2 separate regions of the Homo sapiens genome follow, and region 2 is linked to region 1. The links come from fine-mapping of genetic effects on gene expression. A gene starts in region 1. The other region holds a variant in brackets. All regions are shown on one strand. Distances are between the middles of the regions. Region 1 holds the start of LYRM2 (LYR motif containing 2). Region 2 overlaps MDN1 (midasin AAA ATPase 1).

The links. PIP is the estimated chance that this variant, and not a neighbour inherited with it, causes the effect.
Region 2: its variant is the best candidate, but not a certain one, in a credible set for the expression of LYRM2 in tibial nerve (GTEx, PIP 0.52).

What each region holds. Positions count from the first base shown.
Region 1 is chr6:89,635,911-89,641,096 of GRCh38, reverse strand. LYRM2 (LYR motif containing 2) reads left to right here and starts at 2,350. Exons shown (of 3, transcript NM_020466.5): 1 at 2,350-2,425; 2 at 3,215-3,355; 3 at 3,744-5,186. The coding sequence starts at 2,381. The coding sequence ends at 3,824. It overlaps MDN1-AS1 (MDN1 antisense RNA 1), which reads right to left and starts at 2,565. Exons shown (of 4, transcript NR_111915.1): 1 at 2,461-2,565. RefSeq lists enhancers at 2,551-2,600, 2,821-3,050, 2,403-3,602.
Region 2 is chr6:89,667,825-89,673,359 of GRCh38, reverse strand. MDN1 (midasin AAA ATPase 1) reads left to right here. Exons shown (of 102, transcript NM_014611.3): 80 at 1-124; 81 at 658-813; 82 at 997-1,160; 83 at 2,280-2,441; 84 at 5,209-5,346. All of the region lies in intron 1 of MDN1-AS1 (MDN1 antisense RNA 1), which reads right to left. Among named protein-coding and RNA genes, the nearest start is that of LYRM2, 32 kb to the right of the region's middle. RefSeq lists a silencer at 4,856-5,150. The variant T/C (reference allele first, on the strand shown) is at 3,319.

The sequences.
Region 1 (5,186 bases):
CTCTTAGTGATTCTGCGTTTCTGACAAATACCTAGCTCAGACAAGCCCTCCAGGAAGAATAATTTCCCACAGTATGAACTGCAGCATTCTTTGTTAGCACTATATTGAACTTAGAGGTTTTCCTGCCCAAAGCATGAGTCTTTGAGCAAGGAGCATATGTGACTCACGACAGCATTACCAGTGTCTAGCAAGAGTGAGCCCTTTTTTTTTTTTTTTTTTTTTTTTAAATAGAGCTTTGCTCTTGTTGCCCAGGCTGGAGTGCAATGGCGCAATCTCGGCTCACTGCAACCTCCGTCTCCCAGGTTCAAGCGATTCTCCTGCCTGAGCCTCCCAAGTAGCTGGGACCACAGGCGTGCGCCACCAGGCCCGGCTAATTTTTTGTATTTTAGTAGAGACGAGGTTTCACCATGTTGGCCAGGCTGGTCTCGAACTCCTGACCTCAGGTGATCCACCTCGGTATCCCAAAGTGTTGGGATTATAGGCATGAGCCACCGCACCTGGCCTGAGTGTTTCTTGATGGGAAGAAGAAATAATGTAAAAATGTCTTTCTCACATATTAATGTATAGATTCAACACTACTTCAAAATTCCAACCAAGATCACAAGATGATTTGGAGGGAAATGATACAAAACATTTCTAAAGATTATAGAGAACAGTACTAATGGATTTTTTACAAGAAACTAGAGTCCTGCCAGATAATAAAAACATATAAAACAAAAAGTAAAAACTTAACCCTAAATGAAACAATTCTGGACAGATTACTCAGACCCTAAAAGAATTTATCATACAGTCAAAAAGGCATCCATCATAAAGCCCCGAAAAAGGAATGAGTTATGTAATCAATGGTATTGATACAGCTTAACATCTAGAAAAGAACTTAGATCCACGTGATGCTGTAAACCAAAGTAAATTCTAGATGGAGTAAATATTTTAAAAATTAAAGTTTTTAAAAAACGAATTACAAAGGCCTGAATGGGAAATGAAAAGCCTCAAAAGGCACAAAAATACATGATTGTATAAAGTTTCTGTATGTATAAAGAAATGACAAAAAATATAGAGCCCATATAAATGTCCTCATCATAAACGGACCCAAGTCATGAACAATTCACAAAAACAGTATAACTAAAAATGGCGAGGGGTATTTAACTTCACTCCTTTTAAAAAGTTAGCAATTAACTATTACAGCTAATGTATTAGACAAAATTTGGCATATATTATTGATAATATGATCATGCAGTTAGCATCATTCATACAATGCCTGGTAAAGTTCAAAAGAGCTAATGATTAGAGTTCTTACATGTGCCAGGACCTGTTCTCAGTACATTAGAGATACACAACTGAGGTAGATGCTATATTTCACTTTACAGGGGAGGTAATAGGCCAGGAGAGGGGAAATAGCCAGAACACAGCTAGGAATAGGGAGCCCCAGGATGCTAACAGGCGAGGCAAGCAAGTCCCCAGTAAACTAGTAATTGAACATTTTTCGTTCTATTTTAATTCGATACAACACCACTTGGAAAATTAATATGGCAAAGATTCGCTAACTCCACTTCTAGTGATTTAACCCAAAGGCATGTGTATTGTGGGAAAGATAAAACAACTATAAGGAAATAAAAGCAAAAGCCTGAGGCTTAGGGATGTTAGGCTCCTCGTTATTAGTGATGAAAAGTGCTTAAGACTGAAGTGGGTGAGCCATTCAAAGCTTTGTTTCAAATGATCATGAAGGCCACCGCTCCCGGAAAACCTTTGCGCTACAAAAGAACAGGACAAAAACGAGAAAGAGAAAAAACCAACACAAACTGTAAAAGAAATTAACACTTTCAATTTTAGTATTTTCAACTATACACATTTTTAAAGGCTCGAAAGAACATTTAAATACGTTTTCACCTCTTTCCCCCAAAAAAACCTTAACTTTTTTTTCGAGACAGGGTCTCGCTCTGTCGCCCAGGATGGAGTGCAGTGGTGCGATCTCGGATCACTGCAACCTTCACTTCTCGGGTTCAAGCGATTCTCCTGCCTCAGCATCCCGAGGAGCTGGGATTACAGGCACCTTACAGGCCTCCCAGAGTGCTTGGGACTGCAGGTGAGAGCCACCGCGCCCGGCCTCCTTCACTTTCATTTGAACTCTCTTTACCAGGAACTGTGTTAAGTGCCCTACCTTTCTTCTTTATCAAAACGACCCTATGGTGCACTGTTATCCTATTTTACCGACGAGAAAACTTCGGCCAGCGCAGCAGCTAGGGCTCAGTCCCGAAGCCTCGCGCTCTCAGTCCGAGAGCAACCCGCGGGCCGTCTCCTAGGAAACCGGGCTCGCCACACCCCTTGGTCGAACCCCACTTCCGCTCCTGCGCGCTGAGGCTCCGGCGGACCTCTGGTGGACATGGCTGCTTCCCGCTTACCCCCAGCGACGCTAACGTTAAAGCAGGTACCGGCGGTTCTCTGCCTTCCAAAGCAGCTTACCTGGGTCTGAGCTGGATTCTCCATCTGTCCCTATCCCCAACGGGGCGGGTTCCGGGGTCCTGATGCGGCGTGCGCGCCCTCTGAGATTGGCCCGATGCCTGCGGGGCGGTGCTTCGCTCCGCGGGGCCTGACGGGAGGCACTGGCTGCTTCCTTGGTTTGGTGCGATCGCGTGAGACAGCGTCAGGCGCTTGATTTCCCTGAGTCCCGGTGCCTCAGCTGCCCAGTGCCCACGGTAAAAGTCTATTGCACTGAGCTGTGGCAAACAGCAAATGAGATTACCAAAGATTTGAACAACTGTTAATTTAGAAAAAGTGCTGTCGTTGTAATAACAACTTCTAGGAGACCGGCAGCCCTTTTCAGCCCGGTAGGCAGCTCCTGATTTTTTAATGGTTCTTAGGTTTGACAGAGCAGTAAGCAAAAAGATCAGATGAACCTCGTGATGCTTTCTTTAAAACATCTTTTTGAGACAGGGCCTCACTCTCGCCCAGGCTGAGTGCAGTAGCGCAATGAAGGCTTACCTCAGCTTAGACCTCCTGGGCTCAAGTGATCCTCCCATCTTGGCCTCCCAAAGTGCTGGGATTACAGGCCTGAGCCACTGCATCTGGCCAAAAAAAGAAAAAAAAAAGTTTTTCTTTGCCTTTTTCAAAATTGACCAACGAGAAGTACTCTGGTTACAGCTTGGTTTGCTGAAGTAGAACTTTCCAGGCTGGCGATTGTGCAGTAGTAATTGCTATTTACTCCTCCCTTTTACAGTTCGTAAGAAGGCAACAAGTTCTTCTCCTCTACAGAAGGATTTTGCAAACAATTCGGCAAGTTCCAAATGATTCTGATCGCAAATACCTGAAAGATTGGGCAAGAGAAGAATTCAGAAGAAACAAAAGTGCCACCGAAGAGGTGAGAACAAAATCATGGTGAGGACAGATCCTAACCCTTTTTATTGATCAGTGAATTTTTTTTTTTAAGTTTAGCAGACATCTTGGAATATAGTGCCACTGAGCTGGTATATCTTGATCATTGCTTGTAATGTTACCGATTTTAAATTATTATTTTAAAATTTAGTATTTTAAAATATGTAGATAAAAGAGTATCTACACTCTTCAGCATCATCACTTGACTTTTATGTTGTACATTTTATATGTATGTATGTGGAACTCTTTTAGCTTTTCTAAAAGGCAGCAGTTCCAATAGGTAGTATTGGTTCTTGATTTTAACAGATAAAATGGTATAGCTATACCTTGTTTAACCAGGTAAAACTATAACCAGATTTCACTTTATTCTACAGGATACAATCCGGATGATGATTACTCAAGGCAATATGCAGCTCAAGGAGTTAGAAAAAACACTTGCTTTAGCAAAATCTTAACTATAGCATTATTCTGAAGGATTTTCAAAGTCTCCATGTGTTTTGTTGCATTTAGGATTAACAATGGACAACACAAAGCCCAGTCTTACTATTTATATGTACAGTATTTGGTGATAGAGAGCAAAGGAAAAACACATCAGAACAGTTGCCTTAACACTGAAAAACATACCCTGCATTTTGAAAATGTTTATGGATGTCTCAGCAGTTCTTAAAAGAAGAAAAAAACCACTAACAAATGGCCAGTAGATGCTGGACACAATCATTAGGGAAGTGTAAATCAAAACTACTATGAGGTCGGGTGTAGTGGCTCATGCTTGTAATCCCAGTACTTTAGGAGGCTGTGGTAGGTGGATCACTTGAGGTCAGGAGTTCAAGACCAGCCTGGCCAGCATGGTGAAACCTCATCTCTACTAAAAATACAAAAATTAGCTTGGTGTGGTGGTGCATTGCCTGTAGTCCCAGCTACTTGGGAGGCTGAGGCAGGAGAATCACTTGAACCCAGGAAGTGGAGGTTGCAGTGAGCTGAGGTCGTGCCACTGCACTTCAGCCTGGGTGACAGAGTGAGACAGTCTCTAAAAAAAAAAAAAAAAAACAACCCTGAGATTCACATTCACTAGAATGGCTGTAATTAAAAAGAGAAATAATAATAAGTCTTGGTGAAGATGTACAGAAATTACAGAACCCTCATACATTGCTGGTGGGAATGTAAAATGGTGTAGCCACTTCAGAAAACAGACGGTCAGTTCCTCAAAAGATGAAACAGCTGCTGTATGAGTTAGCACTTCTACCCCATGCCCATAGCCATTATTTGGCACTAAAAAGAAACGAAGGACTTATATATACTAAACATGGATAAACCTTGAAAACGTTAAGTGAAAGAAGCCGGTCACAAAAGATCACATGATGATTCCATTCATACGAAATGTCCAGAATAGGCAGAAAGATTAGTGGTTGCCTAGGCTGGCTGTAGATGGAATGGAGTAACTGCTAATGGGTGTAGGGTTCCTTTTCAGGGTGATGAAAATATCCTACAGTTAGCTTGTGGTGTAGGCTGCACAACTCTTGAATATATTCAAATCCACTGAACTGTACATTTTAAATGTAAGGTATGAATTGTATCTCAATAAAGCTGTTATTAAAAAACTCTTGAGGTGTAGGACTGAAAGTATACTGACACCAGGAGATACCCTGGAACTTTCTCGAAAAATCCTGCATTATCCCTGAGGGTTGTTCAGGTACGTTCTTCAGATGTGTCATAGTTTGATAGAGAACTCATCAAAAAGATCACCACTGGGAATCTAGATCTTTGTTGAAAAGGGAAGAGAAAGAGAAGCTTAATGAGCACATTGAAGCACTTACCAG
Region 2 (5,535 bases), 32 kb before region 1:
GAGCAAAGAGACTCACAAATGGCACTAGTTGAAAGTCTGGAATATGTAAGAGGAGAAATTAGTAAAGCCATGGCTGACTTTACTACCTGGAAGACCCATCTGCTTACTTCAGATAGCCAAGGAGGTAAGGAATATTGTTCAGTCAGGGAATGAAAGTCCAGTGTAGAAATGATGTCTTATAGATGTAAGTCTCATTGTCCAAAAGACACATTATATTTTGGTCTACATGTACCTGTCCAGGGTTCTGAGGCAGGGAGGTGCGGTTGAAATCCACAGCTCTTAACTTTTTTGCCCCATTTGTTTGGATGCCTGTTACATACTTTGTAACACACATAGGAAGGCAGCATCAGCTCACTGTCTGTTTTCCCTTAGATTGAAAAAGCTTGGCACTGATATTTGGACTAAGTTAGTGTTTATTCATACTGTCTTAACTGTTATTTTTATATTTTTTACATTATTTTAGTAAAAATGTTTTAATACAAGGTAATAAACTTGTAGGTTTATCGAGGCAAGGAATTTGTCTCTTCTTTGTATCTGGCACAGCTTGACACAGTGGCTCATCAATAAATGAGTATTTTTAATGATTTCCAGAGGCACTAAAGCAAATGATTGGTGTCTTTTGTTTGTATGTTTGTTTTGCACCATGTTACCTGCTAGGAAATCAAATGTTGGACGAAGGATTTGTGGAAGATTTTTCAGAGCAAATGGAAATTGCCATCCGAGCCATCCTCTGTGCCATCCAGAACTTAGAAGAAAGAAAGAATGAAAAAGCAGAGGAGAACACTGACCAAGCAAGCCCACAAGAAGATTATGGTATGTCTGAAATCAGGCAGAAATTAGTTTCATGCCTGATTTAATTTTTGTATTTGATGATTTATTTCTGTGGCTAAATAGTTAAGGATGGATGTTAGAAACAGATAACTGCATGGATAGAGATAAAAGGATTTGTTTTCTGTTATTCATCATGTTGTTATTTTCTCTGAATGAATGAGGCAGCAGGCTTTGAGAGACTGCAATCAGGACATCTAACAAAACTCTTAGAGGATGACTTCTGGGCCGATGTGAGCACTTTGCACGTGCAGAAAATAATTTCTGCCATCTCCGAGCTGTTGGAGAGGCTGAAATCGTACGGTGAGGATGGCACAGCAGCAAAGCACCTGGTAACTAACTGTTCTTTACAAACTTCTTCCTCTTCAGAATGCACTGAGCAAAGGCAGAGTGGGCTTTACTTCCCTCCACGTAGATAAGTGCCAGAGCAGGCCTCAGTGCCAAAATCACTAAGAACTTGGTCTCTTTATTTATACGTGCAAAGTCATTGACAAGCTTTGAAGAGCTTAGGGCTTGCTAGCTAATTGTTAGATGCATAGGTGCAGAAATGCTAACCATTCAGAATATCCATTATATTAGGATTCTTTCATATCTTATTCACATACTCCCAAGTATCTGATGTTACTGATAGACGATGTTATCAACTGAGGCTTAGCAGCCATCCTGTGTAACCACCATTCCCACTACAATAAGCGAACAGAGTAAGCAGTTGTAGTCTTTACAGTAAGTCCAGAGAAGCAACTTACTTTGCAGGACATTGTATGTTATTCTGTAGCATTGCCTCCGGTGCTAACTTTGAATCAGCAGAATTTATTTATAAACATTTTATTTTTCTTATTTTATTTTGGGACACGGTCTCATTCTGTTGTCGAGGCTGGAGAGTGTGGTGGCATGACCATGGCTCACTGTAGCCTTGACCTCCTGGGCTCAGGTGATCCTCACACCTCAGCCTCCCAGATAGCTGGCAGTATAGGCATGCACCACCATGCCCAGCTAATTTTTAAAGTTTTGTAAAGATGGGTTCTGGCTATATGTTTTTTTTGTTTGGTATTTTTTGTAGAAATGGGGTTTTGCCATGTTGCCCAGGCAACATGAACTTGAACTCCTGGGCTCAAGCAGTCTACCCACTTTGGCCTCCCAAAGTGCTGGGATTAAAGGCGTGAGCCACTGTGCCTGGCCAACATTCTATTTTTAAAAAACCAACATTGTTAGCCAAAGGAGACATCGGTTTGAGATTGTACTTTTGTGACGATATATGTAAATGAAGAAATCTCAGTGAGCTGTGTGTATTGGGGTGGGTGGAGGTTACAAACACATACATGTAACTTGCCATTAGTACTATTTAGTACATTCACAATGTTGTGCAATTACCACCACTATCTAGTTCCAGAATGGAAACCTGGTACCTGCCAAGCAGTGTGAGCAGGCCTTTTGTTTTGTTTTGGTCTCAGTTCTTCAGCCAATCCTGTTCCTTGCTGGTGCGCCTGGTGCCGGTCCTCTCCAGCTACTCAGACCTCGTCCTCTTCTTCCTGACCATGTCTTTAGCAACTCACCGTAGTACTGCAAAGCTGCTCTCTGTGCTTGCCCAGGTCTTTACAGAGCTTGCCCAGAAGGTAAGGACTGTTCACATGGTGCACTGTGAGCAGCAGGGACCCAAGTAAATTTCATGTCATTAGTCTTTGGTGTGATAGGCTTTTATTTTGGACCACCACAAATAGCAGGATGTGATTTGCTCTCCCTGTGGATTATTTAGGGCTTTGTCTGGCATCCTTTTGCTAACGCTGTTTCCACTAAAGTCTCAGAACCTGCAGATGATACCTCCTATCCCCAACCCACCCTTTCCCCCAAACTGACGAGTTCCCTAAACTCCAGCGCTGTCTAAAAGCTGCTGCCGTCTGTTAACACCCTTCCCTTCCCATCCCCAATGTAAATCTTCAGATAACTCTTGAACTAGAGTTGTAGGATAAACCCTTAAGGCTATTAAGTTTTCTTTTAACCATGTTGGTGTAATTATGATTAAATGATAATGGGCCTGTTATTATTAGAGTGTTTTTCGCCTGTTGTGGTGGCTCACGCCTGTAATCCCAGCAGTTTGGGAGGCTGAGGCGGGTGGATCACCTGAGGTCAGGAATTTGAGACCAGCCTGACCAATATTATGATGAAACCCCATCTCTACTAAAAATACAAAAATTAGCTGGGCGTGGTGGCATGTGCCTGTAATCCCAGCTACTCAAGAGGCTGAGACAGGAGAATTGTTTGAACCCGGGGAGGCGGAGGTTGCAGTGAGCCAAAATCATGCCATTGCACTCCAGCCTGGGCAACAAGAGCAAAACTGCATCTCAAAAAAAAAAAAAAAAAAAATATATATATATATATATATATATATATATATGTTTTTTTGGAGACAGAGTCTCCAAAATTGTAATTGTAATTGTAATCTCCACGTGATTACAGGCACGTGCCACCACGCCTGGCTAATTTTTGTATTTT[T/C]AGTAGAGACAGGGTTTCACCACATTGGCCAGGACGGTCTCGATCTCCTGACCTTGTGATCTGTCCACCTCGGCCTCCCAAAGTGCTGGGATTACATGTGTAAGCCACTGCGCCCAGCCAGTTTTTTTCTTTAGCAGGGAAGTCATTTGTTCATTCAGCCATGTACCCGGTATTGTGAAAAGCACTGAGGTTGTAGAGATTGTAGACCCTCCCCTTGAAACTCAGGGGCAGTAGACAGTGAAATCTAACAGCAACATGGTGTGGGTAGGTCTAGTCATAGAGATATCCAGCTCTCGGTCTCTCTTAACCTCACCAAGCCTCAGTTTCCTCATTTGTAAAATGAGATCTGCCTATACTAATATGCATTTTTGTGAGAACCACCTGCATTTGAGTATATAAGTTTTGTTTTTGTTCTTAGCATTCTAAGATTTTCTCCAAGCTTAATACAGATGAGATGTACTTGAGGAAGATATGAATTTACAAACTGAAGATGGGGTCTAGATTTCTTATAAACAATTAAGAGTTCTTAGTTCCGAGTCTCTGAAATACTGGAAAGAGGTAAAAAGTGGAAGCCAAGCCTAATGCCTTGTATCAAGAGGATAAATATGTTTATCTGTAGTAATGATAAGTAACAGTAATAATAATAATAATAAAAAGTAATAATAAGTAAAAGAATGAGTCTCAGGTTTCTCCGCCTCTGGTGGGCACCAGGCCAGCCTTAACATTCCATTGCTTCTTGGAGAAAACACTGTATACTAAAGATAGTGGCAGGAAAATGTGTGGTTCGGGTGCCTTGAGATTTGGCTCAGCTGGATTTGTCCATTTGTACCGTAGCTTTTGTCTGACAGGCTGTAGAATGACTTTGGCCTTTCAAACCTTTGTCTGTTGCGGGTAGGAATGGTTCTGATATGTGCAGAATGTTGGGAGCCCTGTGGCTATCCCAGACGTAGCAGCTGCAATGATATACTCTGGTAAGGGCATCTGAAACTCCCTCCTATGTGGTCGTATTCTTTGTCTATTTCTGAATGTCTCTCATTTAAATAATGTAGTTCAATGGGAAAATTAAGCAAGTAAGCCAAACTGTATTTTCCTATCAACATTCTGAGAATATATGTCCTAAAAGTGGGTTTGGCTTGTTAAAAATTTTTCTAAGTGTCCAAATTGTATTCATATCTTTTCTGAGTAGTTCAAGGGAACTTGAGAGTAGGTTAGACAGTGCTAAGATAATAGATCTAGGCTGTAATTAAAGCTCTTGATCCGCAGGAAGCTGTTTCTGTGTAACCAAGTCATAATTAGTGTTTACTGGTTTGGGATCTTAATTCCTTGCTAATTAGCAGCTTATTTTTTTGTGCATTCCCATCCTCAGATATATCTTCATAGTATATATTTTCTCTTACAAAATTAAACTTTCTGATTGAGAGTCACTACTACTTTTTCTTTTTACTTCTGCTCAGCAGGCTAGTATTCTTCTCAGGTTATTTTCCTGTATAAAATAGTTTTTTTCAACATTTCACAGTTATTACTATGTCTGACTGTGTTCTCTCCAGAGCCTGTTCTGCCCTTACTCAAGGACTTTTTCCAAAATACTGTCCTTCTAGTATACTTCATTTAGGTTTTTGTCTTGGCAAAGTGACAAATGACCACATGCCAGAGGCTTCTACAAAGTCAAGTCATATGTTAAATCTGATGTCAAGCTGTGAAACTGCATAACTATTAGCACCAAAGAGGAGAAGAATGTCAGAAGTCTCCTGTACTTCCAGCGGATTTAAGATAATGAGCTAGAAAAAGAATTCAGTATGTGTTTAAATTGTTTTCCTGTGGCAAGAATGAAATCTCCTTTTAAAATTGCTTTTGTGCCTAATTGTTCACTTCCTTTTTCTTTTTTCTAAGGGATTTTGCTTGCCCAAAGAATTTATGGAAGATTCAGCTGGAGAGGGAGCAACTGAGTTCCATGACTATGAGGGAGGTGGAATTGGAGAAGGCGAGGGCATGAAGGATGTGAGTGACCAGATCGGAAATGAAGAACAGGTACGTTTTCACATAGGTATACAGTTGACAGAAGATCACTCTCTTTCTTTTCAACATGTAAGTTACACATAAAAATGGTTTTTACTAGGTTAATAATTTTTAATCTGTGATCTACAGAGCCCTAGATATATTGGTGCTTCGGCAGTGGGTGTAAATAAAAAGCCTAAAATCCACAGGAAGGAACCTGGC